4 separate regions of the Homo sapiens genome follow, and all the other regions are linked to region 1. The links come from fine-mapping of genetic effects on gene expression. Tissue or cell type: whole blood. Region 1 holds a variant in brackets; each other region holds the start of a gene. Each region is shown on its reference strand, or each on the opposite one.

Region 1 (5,788 bases):
TCTGCACTCAGAGTGAAGTCCCCCTGGGCTTCGTGATTTGCTCCTCAGCCTCTGCTTCTCTGGCACCTGCTCGTCAAGTTCCCTCTGCATAGGGCCCCCTTCTCCCACCAGCTCTGAGCACTGGGGTCGGTGGAGGGGGCACCCCCTGCCCCTTCCCCTCTGCTAAGCCCGGAGCCCCTGGCTTGGCTGCTCTGGGAACCCTCTTCATCCCCAAAGGAAGGCCTGAGCCCAGGAGCCTGTGAGATCCTTCCCAGGCCCTGGCGCCCCTCTGGTGGGCAGCTGTCTGTACCCCTCTTCTATACTTAGGGGGGATCTGGTGCAGGGGCTTAGGAGCAAGGGAGGTGGCCGGGCCTCTGTAGTTCCTGGAGCTCCCATTTCCTCTTCCACTAAACTCTCAGCATCACCACATGACCCAGACTGTGAACCCAGGGGAGTGCTCGGTTGGGGAGGGGAGTGGAGGGAAACCGGCTCCCTCCTGTCCCAGCCCTGAGCACCAGCACTGCGGTTCCAGCTCCCTGCAGGCACTTCCTGCCTGCTCTGGGAAAGCACAGATGGCTGCCACGCCATCACAGCCCTGGGGTTGAGCCCAGACCCCCGAACCTTGACTGTCCAGCCCTGCCAGACCCCGTCAGGATCCACATAGACCCGATGGGTTGCTCTGTCTCCTTGGCTCTGGCCGAGTCCATGGACAAGGAGCATGGCTCCATCCGCCCCGCTCAGCTCTGTGCAGCCCACAGCCCTGCCTGCCCCACCTGAGGGTTGGGGCTCTCTGGACTGGTCAGGGGTGTGTGCTGTCCCTGCCACCCTGCCCCAGCTGAGGCCTGTACCTGGCAGGGGTCGAGCCAGTAAAATCATTGTCCTGCCCTAACCCATGGTGTCTAGGCAGTATGGGCAGGGCCAGGGAGGGCCCATCCAGCCTCGCACCCCACCACTCACCGTCTTGCTCTCTCCTTTTCACTCCCTCTGTCTCCTGACCTTGGGTCACCTCTTCCCTTTCTTGCTCTCACTCAGTCCCTTCTCTCTGTTTTTCTGTTTCTTATTTTGAGACAAAATCTCACTCTGTTGCCCAGGCTGGAGTGCAGTGGCACGATCTTGGCTCACTGCAACCTCCACCTCTTGGGCTCAAGCGATTCTCCTGCCTCAGCCTCCCGAGTAGCTGGGATTACAGGTGTGCGCCACCACGCCTGGCTAATTTTGTATTTTTAGTAGAGATGGGGTTTTGCCATGTTGACCAGGCTGGTCTTGAACTCCTGACCTCAAGTAATCTGCCTGCCTCAGCCTCCCAAAGTGCTGGGATTACAGGCATGAGCCACTGTGCCTGGCCTGTTTTTCTGTTTCTCTATCACTTTAGTAAGTCCTTCTAGCCCCCAGGACCCCCCAGCCCCTCTCTGTATCTGCACACATTTGTCAGTCTGTCCCTCCACCACTGTCCTTGTTTCCTCTCTCTTCCTCGTCACCCTGCCCTGACCTGGGGGGTTTGTGTCTCTCTGTCTCTCTCCGCCTGTCTCCATCTCCCCCTTATCCTCACTCTCTCTCTGTCTGTCTCTCATTTTCATTCTCTTTCCTTTCCTCTTTCTTTTTATTTTATTTGTATGGGTCCATAGCAGGTGCATATATCTACGGGGTACATGACATACTTTAATACAGGCATGCAATGTGTCATGATCCATCAGGGTTAATGGGGTCTCCGTCCCTCAAGCATTTATCTTTTCTCTGTGTTACAAACATTCTCATCATGCTCTTTTAATTATTTTTAAATGTACAGTAAATTCTTGGTGACTGTCATCACCCTGTTGTGCTATTAAATACTGAATCTTTTTTTTAAAAAAATTATTTTAAGTTCTGGGATACATGTGCAGGACGTGCAGATTTGTTACATAGGTCAACGCGTGCCATGGTGGTTTGCTGCACAGATCAACCCATCACCTGGGTATTAAGGCCTGCATGCATCAATCCTGGATCTTAGTCATTCTACCTAACCATATTTTTGCACCCGTCGACCATTCCCGCTGCCCTCCCCTCCCTCTCTTTCTCCCCCTCTCTCATTCTCTCCCCATTTTCATTTTCTCTCTCTCTTCTCATTCTCTTTCTTCCTCTCTCTGTCTCTGCCTCTGCAATCACCCCTGGTCTTCGCCCTCCCTGTCTCTGCTCCCCGGAGTCCCTGCACGTGGCTTGACAGTGGCCTTGGTAGGACCCACTGGGGTGTTTCTTCGTCGCCCATGGGCCCTCATGCTGTTATCAGTTGGAAATGAATCAGAGATTAGGAAGCGGGGGGAGTGGTGGGGGTGTTATCGCCCAGTGCACACGGGGCTCTCAGCTAATCTCTGGCGGCCCTGGGTTCGAGAGGAAATGCAGTTGCAACACTGAGTCCTTCTTACCGTCACTGTCATGTC[C/T]GCGGCGAGGCTGTGGGGGACACGGGCAAGAGATTGGAGAGGGGAGAGGGAGAGGAGAGAGGGCCTGGCCTGAGCTCCTGGCAGGCGTTTGTACAGGCTCACGTGCACACGTGTGCACACACAGCATGTACACCTCCTGGCCCTTGACACCTGAGCCGTCGCCAGGCCTTGCCTGTCACCCTTCCATTGCCTCTGCATGCCCGCACCTGTCCACGTCTTCCCCTGCCGCCCCACGTCCCCAGCCACCATCTCTCTTCATGGGATGGCAGCTCTGGCCTCATCCAGGCTCTTAGCCAACAGAGTGGCCATATTATTATTATTATTTTATTTTATTTTATTTTTTTGAGATGGAGTCTTGCTCTGTCGCCCAGGCTGGAGTGCAGTGGTGCAGTGTCAGCTCACTGCAAGCTCCGCCTCCCAGGTTCACGCCATTCTCCTGCCTCAGCCTCCCGAGTAGCTGGGACTACAGGTGCCCGCCACCACCCCCGGCTAATTTTTTGTATTTTTAGTGGAGATGGGGTTTCACTGTGTTAGCCGGGATGGTCTCGATCTCCTGACCTCGTGATCTGCCCGCCTTGGCCTCCCAAAGTGCTGGGATTACAGGCGTGAGCCACCGTGCCCGGCCCAGAATGGTCGTATTATTAAATGACCACATGATCGGGCTGCTTTCCGAACTTCACCTTCCCACGGTTCTAGGAAGCAGCCACCATTATCATGGTGGCCTCCAGGCTTGCGTGTCTAGCTCCTGTCCTTCCTGCCCTCACCTCCCACACCCCTTGGCTTCCTAGCACCTGCAGTTCTGCCTCGACCCCTCCTCAGTGCCCCGGCTTTTGCAAATGCTCTCCCCTCTGCCTGGAAAACTCTCCTCCCCATGACAACTCCCATGCCTCCTATGGCACTCGGCTTTCCTGTCCTTCATGAAAGCATCCAGGGTCCCCGAGTGCCAAGCTGCAGCAGGTCCCTTGTCTCGGGGCTTCCACCCTCGAGGCGTGAGCTCCCCCTGTCACCATCCTGCCTAGGGATTATGGGTGTAATTCCTACTTCCTGCTCACCTCCTGCCAGACTGTGGGCCTGATGGGGCAGGGACCGAGCCCTCCAGTCTGTCTAGGGCCTGGCCGCACCAGGCAGTGATTGAATGAACAGATCCATAAACACACCGAGAGACACGGATGTACCCAGGCCCATGCACAGACACACAAATGCAGTCACCAGCCATGCACGGAAACTCACATTGACAGACGCTCAACCTCACAAACGTGCAAACCAAAGTTACCTAGAGACGCACGCAGTGACCAAGACACACACACGCCCACTGTCTTCTGTCTATGCTCTGGGCTCACTGCCTCTCATCCAGCCCTGCCCCTCGGGCAGGATCCCCTGCGGGTGTGGGCCTCCTGCACTGCAGCCCTGGCCTTAGCTCCAGGGGGCCAATCCCATGTTATGGGCCCCCAGCAGGATTCTCTGGGCCCCAGCCGTGGTCTTGCCACGTGACTACTTACAAGTGGCTTTTATGCTAAATGCACATAATAGCACATTGGCATAATATCATTGCCAATACTCACAGGTACCATGGTTCACACAGGGAGCATGGTGTGAAGCTCCTCTTACAGGGCTTGTTAGAGGAAAGTTCCAGCTCAGGCAAAGGCTTGGGGTGGAGCGGACAAAGCTACAGTTTGGCCTTTTCCTCAGCAGCGTCCTGCTTCTAGAATCACCACTAAAGTTAACCCAGGCGAGGGGTTCTCTCCCAGCCTCCAGGAGGCTCCAGCTGGAGGCAAACCGCCGGTCTGGGAGAGGTACAGTGGCCAGGGAGAGGAAGGGTTTCAGGGTGGTGTGGGTGGTAGGGGCTGAAGGCAGGGGCAGCAGGGCAGGGCCTGGAGGCCAGCAGCACAGAGGGTCCCCACCTGGCTTCATTTTGGGGGAGGGGGCTGGGCAGGGTATCTGGCGGAGGAAGCAAGAAGGGGTGGCCTCAGAGACTGGCTTGCGGAGATGGGGCTGCATTCCCTGTGGAAGGGAGTGGGCCTTCACGGCTTCAAGGCCGTTTGTCACCTAAAGCAGCTACGGGCATCTTCTCTCTTCCCTCTTTCTTTTTAGAGACAGTGTCTCACTCTGTCTCCCAGGCTGGAGTGCTGGGGTGCGATCATAGCTCACCGCAGCTGCAAACTGCCGGGCTCAAGTGATCCTCCCACCTCAGCCTCCTGAGTAGCTGAGACTACAGGTGGGCACCACCATGCCCAGCCAATTTCTGTATTTTTTGTAGAGATGGCTGTGTTGCCCAGGCTAGTCTCAAAGTCCTGGCCTTAAGCAATTCTCCTGCCTCAGCCTCTTAAAGCACTGGTATTAGAAGAGTGAGCCATGGCGCCCTGCCTCTCTTAAAGATGGCTTTAACCATCACTTACAGCACAGCTGCATCCCTCCTTGGCGGGGTGGGGGAGATTCTTTCCCACCTCTCTGAGTGTCCCCATCTGGGTCCTTGCTCAGTGAGAGCCAGACTTTCTGCTATAACCAGGCCCTGAATGAGAGAGAACCAGAGTCATGTGCTGTGCACCAAATGCAGTGGGAAGACACGAGGGATGCCTCGGTGACCTTCTTTTCAAACAGGAGTCTTTCCCTGGTAACCTGCCTCTGACCTTCCATCAGCCAGATGTTATCTTCCCAAGGCAACAGTGTTCCAGAATTCTTTCTGAGGTGGCCCTGGCAGCTTCTGGGTCCTTCTATTCTGATTTCCAGTTTTCTTTTTCCATTTATTTATTTATTTATTTATTTATTTATTTATTTATTAATTATAGGGTCTTGCTTTGTTGCCCAGGCTGGAGTGCAGTGGCACGAACACAGCTCACTGCAGCCTCAAACTCCTGGGCTCCAGTGATCCTCCCGCCCCAGCCTCCTGTGTAGCTGGGACTACGGGCATGCACCACCATGCCTGGCTAACTTTTTATAGAGATGGGGTCTCACTATGTTGCCCAAGCTGGTCTCAAACTAGCAGACTCAGTGATTCTCCTGCCTCAGCTTTCTGAGTAGCTGGGACCACAGGTGAGCACCATTATGCCTGGCTAATTTTTTATAGAGATAGGGTCTCACTATGTTGCCCAAGCTGGCCTCAGACTAGTGGGATCAAGTGATCCTCCCACCTCAGCCTCCTGAGTAGCTGGAATTACAGGCATGTGTCACCATACTGGGCTAGTATTTGTATTTTTTGTAGAGACAGGGTCTTGCTATGTTGCCCACGTTGTGCTTGAACTCCTGGGCTCAAGCGATCCTCCCACCTTGGCCTCCCAAAGTGTTGGGATTACAGGCGTGAGCCACTGCACCCGGCTCCAGGTGCAGTGGAGCCGGCCCAGGCCTCACCCTTTCTCCAGACCTCACATTCCCAGGCTCGTTGAAGGGAGCAGGGTGCT
Region 2 (5,788 bases), not on the chromosome of region 1:
TTTGTGGTACCAGCTTGCTAGGATAGTAATTCTTGATTTTTAATGTTCTGCCTTTTAGAGTATCCAAACTCTCAGGATTCTCATAATTCTTATAATAATATTATGAGGTAGGTAAGAGTGGCTTCTTTTCCCCTTATACTAATTAGAAAACTGAGGCTCAGTATTAACATGACTGGTTCAAGGCCCACCCATACCTAGTTCAAATCTGGGTTGTTCCATGGTTGCCTTTCCATCACCAGCTTTCTTAGTTATGATCTGTATTCCCATGTGGTTGTGAACTAAGCTAGCTTATATAACAGCATTAATGGATAAAAATCCATAGCTTTTGTTTGTGGCTTCTTGAAGAAAAGTGGTTTTTAAGACCAAAAGAAGCAAGACCTAGCTCTAGGGTGAATGGCATGGGATTGTATTTTGGGCATGTTTCTGTTACCTCAAGTTTGGTACCATTAGAAGGGATGTAGCAGGGATACTTTGGATGCATAATTTTTTAGGATTAGTTGCAGATAATCTTTAAATAGGTAGATTTTTTTCTAAATCTTCCAGAATATACAGCAACTTACATCTGCTTTTCACATTGTATTTGATTTGTTGGATCATCTTTTGCATCAGGGTTTGGATCTGGATTCCAACAAGTTTGAGGGACAACACAACATTGACAGCGCTGGTTCCCCTGTTATAGTTTGACTGGATCATTGTATTCAACAGAGGTTTTAGGCGGATGTAGTTTTCTTCACTTACCTCTGTGGCAGAGAAGGAAGGAAATAAGAAACACATACTCAGAAAATAGTAAGACTTGCAGCAGGGGTTATATAAAAATATTTAGTAACAGATATGGCACAGACCTAGACCAATCCAGTGGCTGCAGACTGTGTTGGTGGAATAATACAAAGGTGGGTCTTGAACCCACCCCCATGCCAGACATTACTCCTTTAACAACCAACATGAAAATGTTTTAATATTTTAACAACTGGTGCAGACTTATCATTGTGTACTGGCAGACTCCTGCCTGGGAAATCTAGCATCATTCCCTAATTTTGTATATGAAGCTTAGATAGATTGTCCTTAAAGAAACTTCCATAATTGGAGGCTGAGCTGAAACTAGACTACATGTCTTCTGACTCTCAGTAAGCAGGACTTTCTACTTCCTGGATTCAGTTCTTTCCTTCTCCATCTTCTAAATCAACTGGGTTAATGTTGAGAAAATGCAGGTAATAATTCTGTGTTATACTGGTGATTGACCCCAAAACTTCATTGTCTGATTACCCAGCTGGCTGGGCATCGAGATCATTATTTAGCATTATGCAGCCTGTAAAAAACTCTCCAGTTTTAGCCTACAATATGCCCCAATTCCAGAGATGGAGGGAAGTCACATTATACTGTGGAAGTAGGAAAATCCATAGCTCCCAAGGAAATAGAGGAGAATAAAAAGATTTACTATTTATTTAAACACAGGACACTTTGTCAATGTATTTTTCCATAATCTTGAGGAGTAGCCCCAAATCCTACATATCTCCAGATTATCTAATGGATTAGTGGGAGAGTGAGAAGAACATGAGGTTTGGATTCAGATTTTGGCCACATTTTGTGCTCCTTAACTTATGACTGTGGATAATAACTTATGTAACTTGTTTTACTCTTAGTTTTCTCATTTAAAAATTGTGGCTGTTAACACTTACCTTACAGATATTGGACAAGAAACCACCGAATAAACTGTAAAATGCTGCACATACTATTATTTCCAGCTCAACTGGAGTTTTTATCACTATACTTGAGAATCAAGGAAATGTAATTTCTCTTGCCCAGTTTTCTTTACTTTAAAAGAATGAGTCAAGAAGATCTGAATAGAGTGATTGTAGAAAGGTCATGGTTTGTTGCAGACACAATGGAACAATTGTGAGTCAGTTCTCTGAGATTTTGTGGAACCATCCAGCTCAGCAGATTTTCTGGCCCTGAAACAGACTTTTTAGTTCCTGATCAACAACTCAAATCAGCTTCCTTGAGTCTCAAAGATAAATTTAATTATTATCATTATTATTTAAAATGAATTGAAAGCTAAAACCTACATAGCCATTCCCTATTCTTAGGATCCAACAGGGGAAATGTCAAGCCAAGAAGAAAAATCAGAGTCAGAAGAGTCTATGCTTTAGCCTGTATGTATACAAGCCTGTCTTCTGTGGTGTTCTCTTCTTACTGGTTAGAGAGCACAGATAGTACCACCTAGTAATCTTTGGACTGGTTTGAAGCTCAATTTCAGAGTAAAGTCTCACAAAAGAGAATTCATGCACTTGAGAACTGCACCAGACTTCATGAGATAATTTGCTTCAATAGTCTCCCCTCATTATCCTTTATTTATGAATGAAGCTAAAGAAATTCAGAAATGTTGGGTCATTCAATAACTAAGGGATCAAACTAAACCTGAATTTAGTTTTCCCTTCTCTTACTTTAAAGTTCTTTTACAGAACCACACAATCTCTGGGGTCAACACCCATGCAAGAGATGATGGAACTTTATCCCATGTGTCCTGGGAAAGAGTTGAAGGAAGGTGGACATGCAACTTGGAACATCTAAACTCACTCATGACAAGACAGCAGTCATCACTATTTGAAAGAGATTATTATTTTTTTCTATGTAGTTACAAGGGGTTAACCCAAAAATCATGCATTGAATTTCAGGGAAAAAAGATTGCATATCAAGACCAAAAGATAACTTTCCATGATCTAGAAAAGTTTCTGGGAGCATAAATTTTCTGTCATTGAAAAGTCACATGAATAGGGAGTTACTTGGTAGGGATGCTGTGCTAGAGAGGATCTGAGCATAGAAAGAGCAGTTAGGCAAGTGAATACACAATCTATAATTCCTCTTACAACAACATGCATTGTGAGACTTTCCTCACCATCTCCTGCCACCCTTTTCATCATTCATGGAGTCCAACCACATACGAAACTGGAATGGGATCTTTTCTCAGGTAACTCTACATAGAGTCTCTTGTCAACAGTTTTCAGTAGACTATCACTCTAGAGTAATTTTAGCTCAAAGTTTACTCACCACAAATCTCGCATAGTTGGCTTGGAATAAAAGAAAACAGTAAGAGCCCCACTAGGGGCAGCTGGTGTGACTGTCTCATCTCTCCAACAGTGTACCAGAATGTTGATGAATTGGCTGGCTATTTATTAAGTGATGGGCAGAAGGTAATGAGAGCTCCTCCTTCAGGTTGCCTCAGCCTCTTTTCACTCAAGCAAATATTGAGCAATGTCAGGAGGTGTGGTCAAGTGTATTTGTCCATGTGATGTAATAAATAAGGAAGAAGACTTGAAGGATGTGGTTAGGGAGAATAAGGCAATAACTTTCCTTTGTCTCCTGTCCTAAACCTTCGGGTTTCATATCTATTATTTGCCTTCCGTGCAGTGAAGATATATTAGGCAAATGACTGTTTCCTATAATCTTTCCTTTTTTTTCCGTTTCACTTTATGTTTTATGTTTCCTGATAAAGTAGATTTGATCATGCAAACACATACAACATATAAAAATGGAAGTAAAAGAAGACATCCAAATGGGAAGCAGGCATATGAAAAAGTGCTTGAAAAGGTGCTTAACATCATTGATCATCAGATAAATGGAAATCAAAGCTACAATGAGATATCCTCTCATCTCAGCTAAAAATGGCTTTATTCAAAACACAGGCAATAACAAATGCTGGCACGGATGTAGAGAAAAGGGAAGCCTTGTACACTGTTGGTGGGAATGTAAATTAGTACAATCACTATGGAGAACAGTTTGGAGCTTCCTCAAAAAACTAAACATAGAGCTACCATATGATCCAGCAATCCCACTGCTGGCTATATACCCAAAAGAAAGAAGACCAGTATATTGAAGAGATATCTGCACTCCCATGTTTGTTGCAGCACTGTTTACAATAACCAAGATTTGGAAGCAAGCTAAGTGTCTATCAACAGATAAATGAACACAGCAAATGTACATATACACAATGGAGTACTATTCAGCCATATAAAAGAATGAAATCCTGTCAGTTGTGACAAAATGGATGGAACTGGAGATAATTATGTTAAGTGAAATAAGCCAGGCACAGAAAGACATACATTGCATGTTCTCACTTATTTGTGGGATCTAAAAATCAAAACAATTGAATTCATAGAGATAGAGAATGAAAAGATGGTTACTGGGGGCTGGGAAGGCTAGTGGTGGGAAGGAGATGCGGAGGGTTAATGGGTACAAAATATTGGAAAGAATGAATAAGACCTACTATTGGTAGCATAACAGGGTGACTATAGTCAATAATAATTTAATTGTACATTTTAAATAACTAATAGTATAACTGGATTGTTTGTAACGTAAAGGATAAATGCTTGACAGGATGAATACCCCCTTCTCTATGATGTGATTATTACGCATTGCATGCCTGTATCAAAACATTTCATGAGCCCCATAAATATATACACCTACTATGTACCTACAAAAATTGAAATAAAAAAATTTAAAAACGGAAGTAAAAGTTGTAAGTCTGAAATTGAAGCAGGCAGTATTGGAGAACCCAGCACATGAGGGGATCTTTGGCATAGTGGTTTCCAAACTATGATTTTTCTCCTAAGATAGATTCCATGAGAGTTTCCTAACCAAGGAGGAAAACCAGAGAGCTATACATCAAATGTGAATTTCTGCCCTGCCAGGGCAGTTGCTACATGTGAGAAGTGTTGCCTATCACAGTTCTTCTGAGAACTATTAGAGAATACTGTCAGCCTAGCTAAGGATGTCATGACTTAATGAGCCACTATTTGCATTGTACCTCTGTGATGGTTAATTTTCTGTGTCAACTTGACTGGCACCTGAGTGCCCAGATTAAACACTATTTCTCGATGTATCTGTGAGGGTGTTTCCAGATAGGATTAGCATTTTAATTGGTGGACTCTGGAAAGTAGAATGCCGTCTCCAATGTAGGTGTGCATCAATCAATCTATTGAGACCCTGAATAGAATAAAATGGTGAAGGAAGGGGGAATTCACCCTTTTTTTGCTTCCTGCCAGCCTGTTTGAGCTAGGACATCTTATCTTCTCCAGCCCTCAAACTGAGATTTACACCATCGGCTCCCCTGGTTCTTGGGCTTTCAGTTTGGCCTGAATCACTCCACTGACTTTTACTGCATGCAGACAGTAGACTGTGGGACTTCTTAGCCTCCATAAGGGCATGAATCAACTCCTTGGAATAAATCTCTTTCTCTCTCTCACATATTTATATAAAACTTATGTGGAAACCACCATTCTACTCTCTGTTTCCATGTATTTGATAATTTTTAGAATCTACATATAAATGAGATCATAGTATTTGTCTGTGACTTATTTCATTTAGCATGATATTCTTCAGGTTCATCCATGCTGTCTCAAAGGGCACTATTTCCTTCTTTTTTATGGCTGAATACTATTCTATTATATAAATATAAATATATATATACACACACACACATATATGTGTGTGTGTATATAAATCACAATTTTTATCCCTTCATCCATCAACAGATATGTAGGTTGTTTCTATGTCTTTGATATTGTGAATAATGCTGCAATGAACATGGGAGTACATATTTTATATAATATATATTTTTGTTTGTTTGTTTGTTTGTTTGTTTGTTTTTGAGACAGAGTTTCTCTCTTGTCGCCCAAGCTGGAGTGCAATGGTGCAATCTCAGCTCACTGGAAACTCCACCTCCCGGGTCCAAGTGATTTTCCTGCCTCAGCCTCCAGAGTAGCTGGGATTACAGGTATCTGCCACCACACCG
Region 3 (4,894 bases), not on the chromosome of region 1:
GAAAGGCTGCCCACCGTGGGAACAGCTTTAGCAGTTTTCCCAGGAAAAAGCCACAAGCCCTGGAGGCACAGAGGCCCAAAGACAAAAAAAAAAAAAAAAGGCCTTTCCTCCTAGCAGGAAGCAAGCCCGATTCTTGGGAAAGGGAAGGGACAGACTCAGAGCCTCAGGGCCAAGGGGTGAGATCCAGCACCCCAGCAGGACAGGAATCTAGCTGGGTGACCTCTCTGAGCCTCAGTCTCCTCCTCTGACCATGGGGACAACAAACTTCGCTTGCAAGGTGTGCGGAGGGTAACGGATGTAGGGAGGCATTTAGTAGGGCTTGTTCTCTAACCACCTCTCTCCGAGAGTTTCAAAGGGAGTGGGATCTGGGGAAGGTTGAGGCCTCAGGCCTGGGAACTAGGAATACTTTCCCTTTTACCCACCACCATCCCAGGCCTGGAAGAAGATCAGAAGTTGGACAGGAGAGGTCCGGCCGCGCGGACGTCACCTTAGCGCGCCACTGTCGGCTCCGGTGGGCTCGGGTGAGCTCGGGTGAACGCAGCGAGCGAGGGCAGAGGCCAGCAGAGGCGAGGAGTGGATGCTGCAGGGCCGCAGGCCGGGCAGAGAAACGCATACCGGGTCGCTCCCTGCTTCGCCGCCGCCTCCTGGCAGGGCCAGCGAAGCCAGTGCTCCAGCGCCCCCGTAACACCTCAAAGCGCACGGAGTCCGTGTTGGGGAACTTGGCGGCAGAGTGACTGGGACCTAGGACCTGCGGTGGGGCCGCCGCCGCCTCCGCGGGGCCGAGCGCCTGGACCTCGCCCTGAGGTAAACGCGGGTCGACCCGGGGGGCGGATGGGCTCGGGCTGTGTCGAGGGGAGGCGGAGGTGAGCGACCCGCGAAGAGCGCAGGAGCAGGCCGGGGGCCACGCTAGGGCGGACCCAATTTCGGAATAGCGCGGCCCGGGCGGCGGCGTGCGCTGGGAGGAATGCTGGGTCTGTCGCTAGCGCCAAACTTGACCACGCTGCGACCTTTTCACTCTGTGCTCTGACCTTCAAATCTCCCTCCCCCGATTTTTTTTTTTTTTTTTTTTTTGAGACAGAGTTTCGCTTTTGTTGCCCAGGGCGGGAGTGCAGTGACATGATCTCGGCTCACTGCAACCTCCACCTCCTGGGTTCGGGCGAGTGTCCTGCCTCAGCCTCCCGAGTAGCTGGGATTATAGACCCCCGCCACCATGCCCGGCTAATTTTTTTTATTTTATTTATTTATTTATTTATTTATTTATTTATTTTTGTAGTAGAGACAGGGTTTCACCATGTTGGCCGGGTTGATCTCGAACTCCTGTCCTCAAGTGATCCGCCTGCCTCAGCCTCCCAAAGTGCTGGGATTACAAGCGTGAGCCACCGCACCCGGCCTTCTCCCAATTTTTAAAACTCGCTGGCTGGGCTGACAGCTACAGGGCCAGGAATTCAAAACTTAGCCTCACCAGTCTCCCCTCCTCAGACCGAGGAGGTTGTTTTGTTTTGTTTGAGACAGAATCTCACTCTGTCGCCCAGGCTGGATTGCAATGGTGCGATCTCGGCTCACTGCAACCTCTGCCTCTCCGGTTCAAGCCATTCTCCTGCTTCAGCCTCCCGAGTAGCTGGGATTACAGGCGCCTGCCACCACACCCAGCTAATTTTTGTATTTTTAGTAGAGACGGGGTTTCATCATGTTGGCCAGGATGGTCTCGAACTCTTGATCTCAAGTGATCCGCCCACCTCGGCCTCCCAAAGTGCTGGGATTATGGGTGTGAGCCACCATGCCTGGCCAGACCTGGGGTTTGGACCCATTAAAGAGCTTCCTTACAGATGGCTGGCGGTCTTGCCACCAATTGTTTCAAAAGTAGATGTCTGGTTTAGAGTACTTAAGACATTCACAGATTCAAATGTTGAATTTTGAAATATCCCTGATATATTTCTGTATTGTATTACCAAAAAAAAAAAAAAAAAAGAAGTTAGACAGGAGTTTGGAACCAGAGAACAGCCTGTTGGGGGAGTGGGGACTACAGCAGGGCTACCCAGGCCCCTCCTCCTCCCTGTCCCTTCGGCTCCCACCCTCTGCCAGGCTTACCTGTAAATCGGGCCATACTTCTGGAAATTCTGGACATGGTGAAGGTGGACTTTGTGTGTGCCCGTCTCCCTCCAGAAATGGTACAGGTTTAGCCAGCCATTGTCACCAGGAGAGGGGATCTCATTGAAGGGGCGAGGACTGCGGGTGGAGATGCCAGCTCCCTCGCCAGTGGGCACCCTGAGACGCCCCAGCCCCTCCCTGGGGGCACTCAGAAAGGTCTGGCAGCCTTTGACCAGGACTGAGCGTGGGGGAAGACCCTTGGCCAGCATGCTGTCCCCACAGCTGTGACTGTACCTGCTCCACTTCAGCGGGGACTGCTAGGATGACTGTAGCCCTGGGCCACCAGGGCCAAGATTATAACTACCAGCTCAAGGCCATACCAGAAGCTGATAAAATGTTCACGTCCTTCCTCCTGCTGCAGGCTCAAACCCGCAGACAGCTCCTCCCCTACTCGGTATGAAGGTTCAGTCTGGAATTTCTGCAGCGTGAGGTTCTCCAAAGGACAGGGAGACCCCTCTGTCTCTGCCCTCAGTGCCAGCCCTAGCAGACTCCTGAAATATCTGCCTGTGCTTTTGCCTGAGCTGGGGCCTCCCACTGGCCCCTGCAGCGGAGTCCATGCCCTGGCAGCCATTGGTCAAGACTGCAGACAACCTGTGTTTGGGGGAAATGAGGGGCCCAAGAGAAGGTCAGAGCTATCTTGCCAGCTTGGGCAACATACGTCTTAGTTATGGCCCCACTGTATAGACACACATCATTGAACAACAGGGATAAGTTCTGAGAAATGCATCCTTAGGCTATTTTATTTTATTTTATTTTATTTTATTTTATTTTATTTTAAGAGAGTTTCATTCTTGTTGCCCAGGCTGGAGCGCAATGGCACAGTTTCACCTTGGAACCCTAATCCTCGTCGTCTCTCCCCAGTTGACCCAGATTTGGGGCTGTAATTCAGTACAGCTGACTCAGAGGGGCTCTGGGTCCCTTGAGCTGAGGTCTGTGGTCAGGCTCCACTCTGGACACACTCTAAGACCTTGGCAAATCTGGTTGCCATGGAACTCAGGATGTCAGCTCTTCCCTGTCCACACACTTGATCTGTGCTGCTTTCCCCTCAGAGCTGCTTCCATACCCCCTCCCATCATATCATATCCCCAGACCCATCCTTCCAGCCCAGGTCAGCCCCCACACCCACCCCCCATCACCCTGCACCTACCACTTTCCCAAACAACAAGGGTCAGTCACCTGTAGAGTTTTCAAGTCATTTCAACAAAATTACAGCCCACTTGGTAAAAATGTGTAGGTCAGAAAACATACATGTGCCATGTAGAGCATTTCATGACAGCAATCTACACTATACCTTATACTTATCATTGGAAGGTACAACTTCTTGCTTTTTTTCCCCAAAATCTTATTTTCTGGCAAATAAGGCATTTAAAACACACATCTAAGAGACAGAAAATAGACTGGTGGTTGCTTAGAGCTAGGGGGATAGAGGAATTAGAGGATGGGACATAAAGTGTGTAGGGATTCTTAGGATGATGAAAATGAAAATATTCTAAAGTATATTGTGGTAATTATTGAACAACTCTCTGATACACTAAAAGCCATTGAATTGCATACTTTAAATGGGTGAATTGTATGGTGTGTGAATTATATCTCAATAGAGCTGTTACCAAACACACACACACACACACACACACGAGTGACATCCTCCTGGCCTCTTCTGTTGTATGTGTCAGCCCATAGATCACCCACAATGGCAAAAGTTGTCCTTACACAGCCACTTGACCCCAGACTCCAATACTGTTGAACCACTTTCAACAAATTTAGAGCAACAGTTTTTAGAAGAAAAAAAAAAAGTACTTATCAAGAGTGGTTGTTGCTCTTCCCGCTGGAGTGACCACTACCTCATCAGTCATGAACCTTCTGATAAAGAGAGTATGGAGAAAGCCTGTTTTGCCTCACTGATGACCTTGAGCCTGGAATGACATCAGCCAAGGAAGGCAGTGTCTCACGAGCAGCGGCAGGGTGATGAGCTTCCACAAAGAAAAGCAGTCTTCCAAGGACTAGTTTTTCCTCCAAGGGTCTCAGCACTGAGGTGACATTTATAACTTTCTGACTTAAAGTCAATCCCATTGTTCTACGCAGCCCCACATTCCTCCCTCAGAAGGAGCCCTAATCGATGTGGCATGGAAGAACTTGTGGTCCTCTTGGCAGCCACCCCAACTTCCGTTCAGGCCTCCGCACCTCCCCCAGTGTTGTGGGGCACTGACCGCCTCCCCAGAAGTGGCCCGGGCTGGAGGTTATTGCCTCATCCTCTCCAATGGCCATGGTCACATCACAGCATAGGCCAGCGATTCAGTTTGGGCCAATGAAACACAGGGAAAGGTTTGCTGTGGCTTCTGGGAGAATAGCTCCCTCACTTCTCTGAAAGAGCTTCCAGAAACACATCACTCACTCCAAACAAGGCTGAATGTATTAGCTGTTTACTGCTGCTTAACAAATTATCCCAAAATTTAGTGGCTTAAAACAATAAATGTTTATTATCTCACAGCTTCCGAGGGTGCAGCACCCAGGAGCAGCTTTTCTGGGTGACTGGGTGGCTGGGTGGCTGGGTGACTGGGTGGCTGGGTGGCTGAGTGGCTCATGCTCAGGGTTTCTCACAAGCGGCTGCCATCCCTGAAGCTTGACCAGGGTGTAGGATCAGCTTCCAAGCTCAGTGGATTAAACTGGCCCTGCTTCAAAACTTTTCAGTGGCTGTTTCAGGACTATTGAGAAGATTAATGAATGATACATACATTTCAAAATATAT
Region 4 (5,788 bases), not on the chromosome of region 1:
ATTGAATCATGGGGGCGGTTTCCCCCATACTGACTTCATGGTAGTAAATAAGTCTCACGAGATCTGATCATTTTATAAGGGATTTCCCCTTTAACTTGGCTCTGGTTCTGTCTTGCCTGCTGCCATGTAAGACATCCCTTCCTCTTCCGCTATGATGGTGAGGTCTCCCCAGCCATGTGGAACTGCAGTGCAGTGGCGCAATCTGGGCTCACTGAAATCTCCGCCTCCTGGGTTCAAGCGATTATCCTGCCTCAGTCTCCCAAGTAGCTAGGATTATAGGTGTGCGCCACCACATACAGCTAATTTTTGTATTTTATTTTTTAGTGGAGATGGGGTTTCACCATGTTGGCCAGGATGGTCTCGATCATCTGACCTTGTGATCCGCCTGCCTGGGCCTCCCAAAGTGCTGGGATTACAGGTGTGAGCCACTGTGCCTGGTCTAAACCTTTCTTTCTTTCTTTCTTTCTTTCTTTCTTTCTTTCTTTCTTTCTTTCTCTTTTTTTTTTTTTTTTTTTTTTTTTTTTTTTTTTTTTTTTTTTTTGAGACGGAGTCTCTCTCTGTCGCCCAGGCTGGAGTGCAGTGGCGTGATCTCCACTCACTGCAAGCTCCACCTCCCGGGTTCACGCCATTCTCCTGCCTCAGCTTCCCGAGTAGCTGGGACTACAGGCACGCGCCACCACGCCCAGCTAATTTTTTTGTATATTTAATAGAGATGGGGTTTCCCCGTGTTAGCCGGGGTGGTCTCGATCTCCTGACCTCGTGATCCGCCTGCCTCAGCCTCCCAAAGTGCTGGGTTTACAGGGGTGAGCCACCGGGCCCGGCCCGCCCCCCTCCCTTTTTTTTTTTTTTTTTTTTTTTTTGAGACGGAGTTTTACTCTTGTCGCCCAGCCTGGAGTGCAATGGCGTGATCTCGTCTCACCGCAGCCTCTGCCTCCCGGGTTCAAGCGATTCTCCTGCCGCAGCCACCAGAGTAGCTGGGATTACAGGCACCAACCACCACGCCCGGCAAATTTTTTTCTTTTTTTTTTTCTTTCTTTTTTTTTTTTTGAGACGGAGTCTTGCTCTGTCGCCCAGGCTGGAGTGCAGTGGCGCAATCTCGGCTCACTGCAGCATCCGCCTCCCGGGTTCAAGCGATTCTCCCTGCCTCAGCCTCCCCAGTAGCTGGGATTACAGACGCCCACCACCGCGCCCAGCTAATTTTTGTATTTTTAGTAGAGACGTGGTTTCGCCATGTTGGCCAGGACCTCCTAACCTCAGGTGATCCGCCAGCCTCGGCCTCCCAAAATGTTGGGATTACAGGCTGAGCCACCTCGCCCGGCCAAACTTTTTTTTCTTTATAAATTACCCAGTCTCAGGTATGTCTTAATCAGCAGCGTGAAAACTAACTAATACAATGCTGATTTATTTCATCTGATTAATTCAATCCCAGAGGCAATTTTAACATAATCATTGAAAAAATTACAAACTTTTATAATAAAACAATTTAACAATATATTATTCCGTATACTGCTGTAAAAGCACAGTAAAAAATAGTCTCAAAAATTCTAGTCTCTGTGCCAGAAAGATGACAACAATCCAATTTCAACTCTCTGACAACACAGGCTAATCAATATCCAATGCCTATACTAAACATCTTAATAAAGACTTCAGCCGAAATATTTTTAGTTCAAAAAAGAGAACTTTTGGAATAATTTTGTTAGATAGAAAACTTACAAATGAGGAATTAAGTATTGACCATTCTACAGTTCAATACAAAATGTTAGCCAACGTAAGCTCTTACTCTTAAATACGACACATCAAGAATTCAAACATATTTGGGCATTCCAGACACAGTTTTTTACATGCTTAGTAATTGCGCAATAATCTGAGTTAGAGATATAAAAACAAAGATTACTTGTGAATTTGCTATAGCTCTTCTTTGAGTTTAAGATGCAGATCTTAACTTGCCCAGTAATAAACTTATACAAAATGTAATGGCCTAGAGCATGTTTACACTCCTATTATATAGACCCTGGTGTTCTGAAATGTAAAAATTGGATTCAGACAGCAATCATGTGAGATACTATTGTTCACAGGGGAACTTCTTGCATATACTGACATTAAAACAGCTTTTTATTACCCCTAACATTTGATGGTAAAGAATGTTAATTTCCCTCATTTCACAGTGTCCCTGGGCATTTCAAGTTCAATTCTGGAAAAGTTGCCAGGTTGGAGTTAAATTATAGGACAATAGAGAAATAGAAGAATTGTTGTTGACTGAGTAAGATATTGATTTCAATCAAGCACTGGATGTTTAACTTTGAATTAGCAAGCTGAAAGCTCTATTTTTTTTTTTTTTATCAAATATCAACTAAATGTCATTTTAAGTGACTGTTTCACATTAAAGCCAAAGCAAGAGGAATAACTGAAATATCCTTTGGGAGCTGTGAGTTGAAATTCCTGGCCTGGGGTAAATCCCTTAAACCATCTCTGAAGCCAAAAGATGATAGGTTGCAATTCTTATCAAAACATGGAGATGCTTCAACAAAATGTGCCTTAAAATAATATAAAATATTACCAGTAAAAGTCTTAAACTTTAAAGCAAAGGAAAGAAATTGAACAGCCATGAGATAATATTCTCTACTCCATCAATCCAAGTTATTGAAGAATCACTTGGGAAAATTCTGGAAGTAGTAACAAACCCTGATTAAGACAGGATTTTTCCTCTAGCATTGATTATATTTTCTATGTTAAAATCCACTTGAAGAGATCTTCTTAAATCTCCTGTACCTATATTTCCTTAAAAATGACTATTTGAGTTTCACATATTCGCATATATGGAGAGGTTCTGGGTAAGACAAGGTCAGAGTGAGCACCATCATGAAAATAGCTCACAAGACAGTTAGTCACAAACAGGATATGAGAATAATAAAAACTCTGAAGTAAAGAGTAAAGCATATCTCATTTATTACCTATGTGGAGTTCAGTAATATGACTTACCTGTGTTATGTCTCTCGGGAGTCTGCAGTGTCTTGTATCCCTGGGTATGTGACTGTGCCTTGGGTTTATATGACGAGTAAGTGATAATCACGAGCCAGTGAGAGGACAGGCAACTTCCTTCTACCTAACGCTCTTCCTTCTTTTCTTAGATAAAACATGCATGCCAGGCAGTTCAAGCCTGCGAAGACTGCTGGTTATACAGGATATCTGGGTATAAATAAACCAACACATTTGTATACAAGGTAAAGTCAAAGTTATAGCTGCATATGTATGCCCACTGTTACATGTTCACTTATTTTCAGTTTTACACCATAGGCTCCTGGAGAATAAGAAAACCTGAATGTAATGAAATCATCTTTGCAGATGTGCACATGACTTGCTTCTCTATTTTAGAAACAGTCTCTCCTGTACCTGCTGTATGTTCCTTCGAGGCAGTGTCTAACAATGTGGTGTATTTAACTTGTTTGTTTTTGGTTTCTCCCAGTGGAATGTAAGCTCTGTAAAGGCAGGCACTTCACTGTCTTTTTCACTATTGTCTCCTCAGTTCTAAGAGGAGTGCCAGGCATGTCATGACCACTAATATACATCTGATGATAGAATAACCCTAATTTATAGTTCACGTTTTTGCAAGGACTGTAAATTTGCATTGTTGCTGGTTTATTTCATTTACTCTCATTTCTCAGAAAAGCCAAAGTGTTTAAAGTAAACCTGGTGTAGAAGTTTCCAATTCATCTTGTTTGTGATCCTTTTACAATTTAGTAACAAATGCCTGACATTTTAGAAATTTATTGTTTCACTTCTTAGTGCAGGAATTATTTTTATCTATAATATTAGGACAGCTCAGTGAAAAGATCCAATAAAATGCCTGCCTGGGCCTTACTGAGCCTGAGGATTATCCATGAAACATTTCAATGACCAGCTGGCTTTCAACTTCCAGAAAATTACTCCCACAGGCAACAATAGCAACATATCAATCATTTAATATTTCTTATTTCTAAAGTGCTTTTAATTTTGAAAAATATGTTTACATCCACTTAGTATAAACGTCAGAAATGAAAATAAATGTAAATACTAGTATGTAAAAAGAGAAGACGCAAGTGTAGCCCTTTACCCACCAAAAAAGGATACATGTGTGTCAAAATCAAGTGCAAATGGGATGGGAGTGGGAGCTATACAAAATTAACACAATGCATTTATTATCTTTGACAGCTTTAACTTATATTTTCAAAAAAATCTTTTTATCCTCACCTCAATGATTTTTAATCCCTATTTTTATAAATGAGGAAACTGAGACATAGGGAAATTAGGTAAATTGCCTGCGAATTTTTGTTGGGACAAGCTAGGATTAAAATCTAGGCCTTCTGATGACACATTTAATATTTTTCCTTACATAATGCTGCCTATATATAATACGAGACTGCTTCAGTTAAAAAAAAATCAAGTATACAAAAAATAACACTTTTCTCATTTTGTATTACAATTTTATCTTTTACGACCAGTTGTTTTGGCTGGAGGAAAGCAGAGTAACACATCAAGGATTGGGGAAGGAGCAGCCACTTGATCCTTGGTCACCGATCAACAGAGGCTGCTCTAGAGGCATCCATTGTCCTTGTGTGCATGGCCTCCACGCCAGGAGCTCTCTGCAGCTCCTGTAGCATTCTCATTTTGCTACCTTCTTGCCCCAGTGTGGTGGTTTCATCACAACGCTGCCTGAGATTCCACCTGCCCAGTACCCAACAGAGCCACTTCTTCTCTGTGGTCTTTCTACCTCCCTGGAGGCACAAGAGGGTCCCAGGAGAGGGTCCCAGATCTCCTCTACTCGGGAAGCACAGCTTTCCCATCCTCTTGTCTCTTCTCCCAGCCCAGGTGGGGGTGCTCTAACTCTCCTAGTCTTCTACCAGCTGTGGGCCTTTGGGCAGGTAACTTAATCTCTCTGTGCCTGAGCTCCTTCACCTTTAGATGGAGATTGATTCTACAATAAATATTTATTTGTTCCTAATCTTTGCCAGGTATTGTTCTGAACGCTAGAGATATAGCAGTAAATAAGGCTGGGCGCGGTGGCTCACTCCTGTAATCCCAGCACTTTGGGAGGCCGAGGCAGGTGGATCACAAGGTCAGGAGATGGAGACCATCCTGGTCAACATGGTGAAACTCCATCTCTACTAAAAATACAAAAATCAGCCAGGTGTGGTGGCCCACGCCTGTAATCCCAGCTACGCGGGAGTGTGAGGCAGGAGAATCGCTTGAACCCGGGAGGCAGAGATTGCAGTGAGCCGAGAGCGTGCCACTACACTCCAGCCTGGCGACAGAGCGAGACTCCATCTCAAAAATAAATAAGTAAATAAATAGAGATATAGCACTAAATAAAATCAGACAAAAACAAATCTTCATGGAGCATTCTAACAATATTAGTAATAACTCTCTCATAAGCTTTTACAGAATTAAATGAGTACACAGATATGTGCTTCAAAGTGTGCCTAATGCATAGTTAGGGATCCATGAGTGAGAGCAATTGTTAATATTATTAGCAGTTCACCTGAAGGGAAAATCGTTTCCCTTCAAGAATCTATGCTCAAGAATTCTTTCCTTTTCTGTGGTTGGGTTTGGGCACTAACAGCAGAAAGAGAAGTAGCTGTCAGGCAACTTTCATTTTTCACCCTGCTTCATCCTCTTCTGAGGAAATGAGCACGGAGCCAAGTGTCTACTGGAATAGGGAGGAGGAAAAGGGCAAGGGCAAAGTGAAAACCCCTCATGGATTGTTACCTCTCAGTTCCCTGCTCTCCAGGGCAGTGACTTCTTCATGCCACAC

Evidence for each region. PIP is the estimated chance that this variant, and not a neighbour inherited with it, causes the effect.
Region 2: it holds the start of TCN1, and the variant in region 1 is fine-mapped to the expression of TCN1 in whole blood (TOPMed, PIP above 0.99).
Region 3: it holds the start of CYP11A1, and the variant in region 1 is fine-mapped to the expression of CYP11A1 in whole blood (TOPMed, PIP 0.99).
Region 4: HPGDS starts here. The variant in region 1 is fine-mapped to the expression of HPGDS in whole blood (TOPMed, PIP above 0.99).

Annotation. Positions count from the first base shown.
Region 1 is chr19:33,261,249-33,267,036 of GRCh38, forward strand. No RefSeq gene overlaps it. Among named protein-coding and RNA genes, the nearest start is that of SLC7A10, 38 kb to the left of the region's middle. The variant C/T (reference allele first, on the strand shown) is at 2,394.
Region 2 is chr11:59,863,347-59,869,134 of GRCh38, forward strand. It overlaps TCN1 (transcobalamin 1), which reads right to left and starts at 3,141. Exons shown (of 9, transcript NM_001062.4): 1 at 3,046-3,141; 2 at 561-740. The coding sequence starts at 3,124.
Region 3 is chr15:74,365,229-74,370,122 of GRCh38, forward strand. CYP11A1 (cytochrome P450 family 11 subfamily A member 1) reads right to left here and starts at 2,418. Exons shown (of 9, transcript NM_000781.3): 1 at 2,089-2,418. The coding sequence starts at 2,357. It overlaps LOC124903524 (a long non-coding RNA gene), which reads left to right and starts at 234. Exons shown (of 2, transcript XR_007064709.1): 1 at 234-277; 2 at 434-4,894. RefSeq lists a silencer at 801-960, a promoter at 2,368-4,770 and enhancers at 2,550-2,574, 3,996-4,118, 4,288-4,346.
Region 4 is chr4:94,339,816-94,345,603 of GRCh38, forward strand. HPGDS (hematopoietic prostaglandin D synthase) reads right to left here and starts at 3,021. Exons shown (of 6, transcript NM_014485.3): 1 at 2,980-3,021.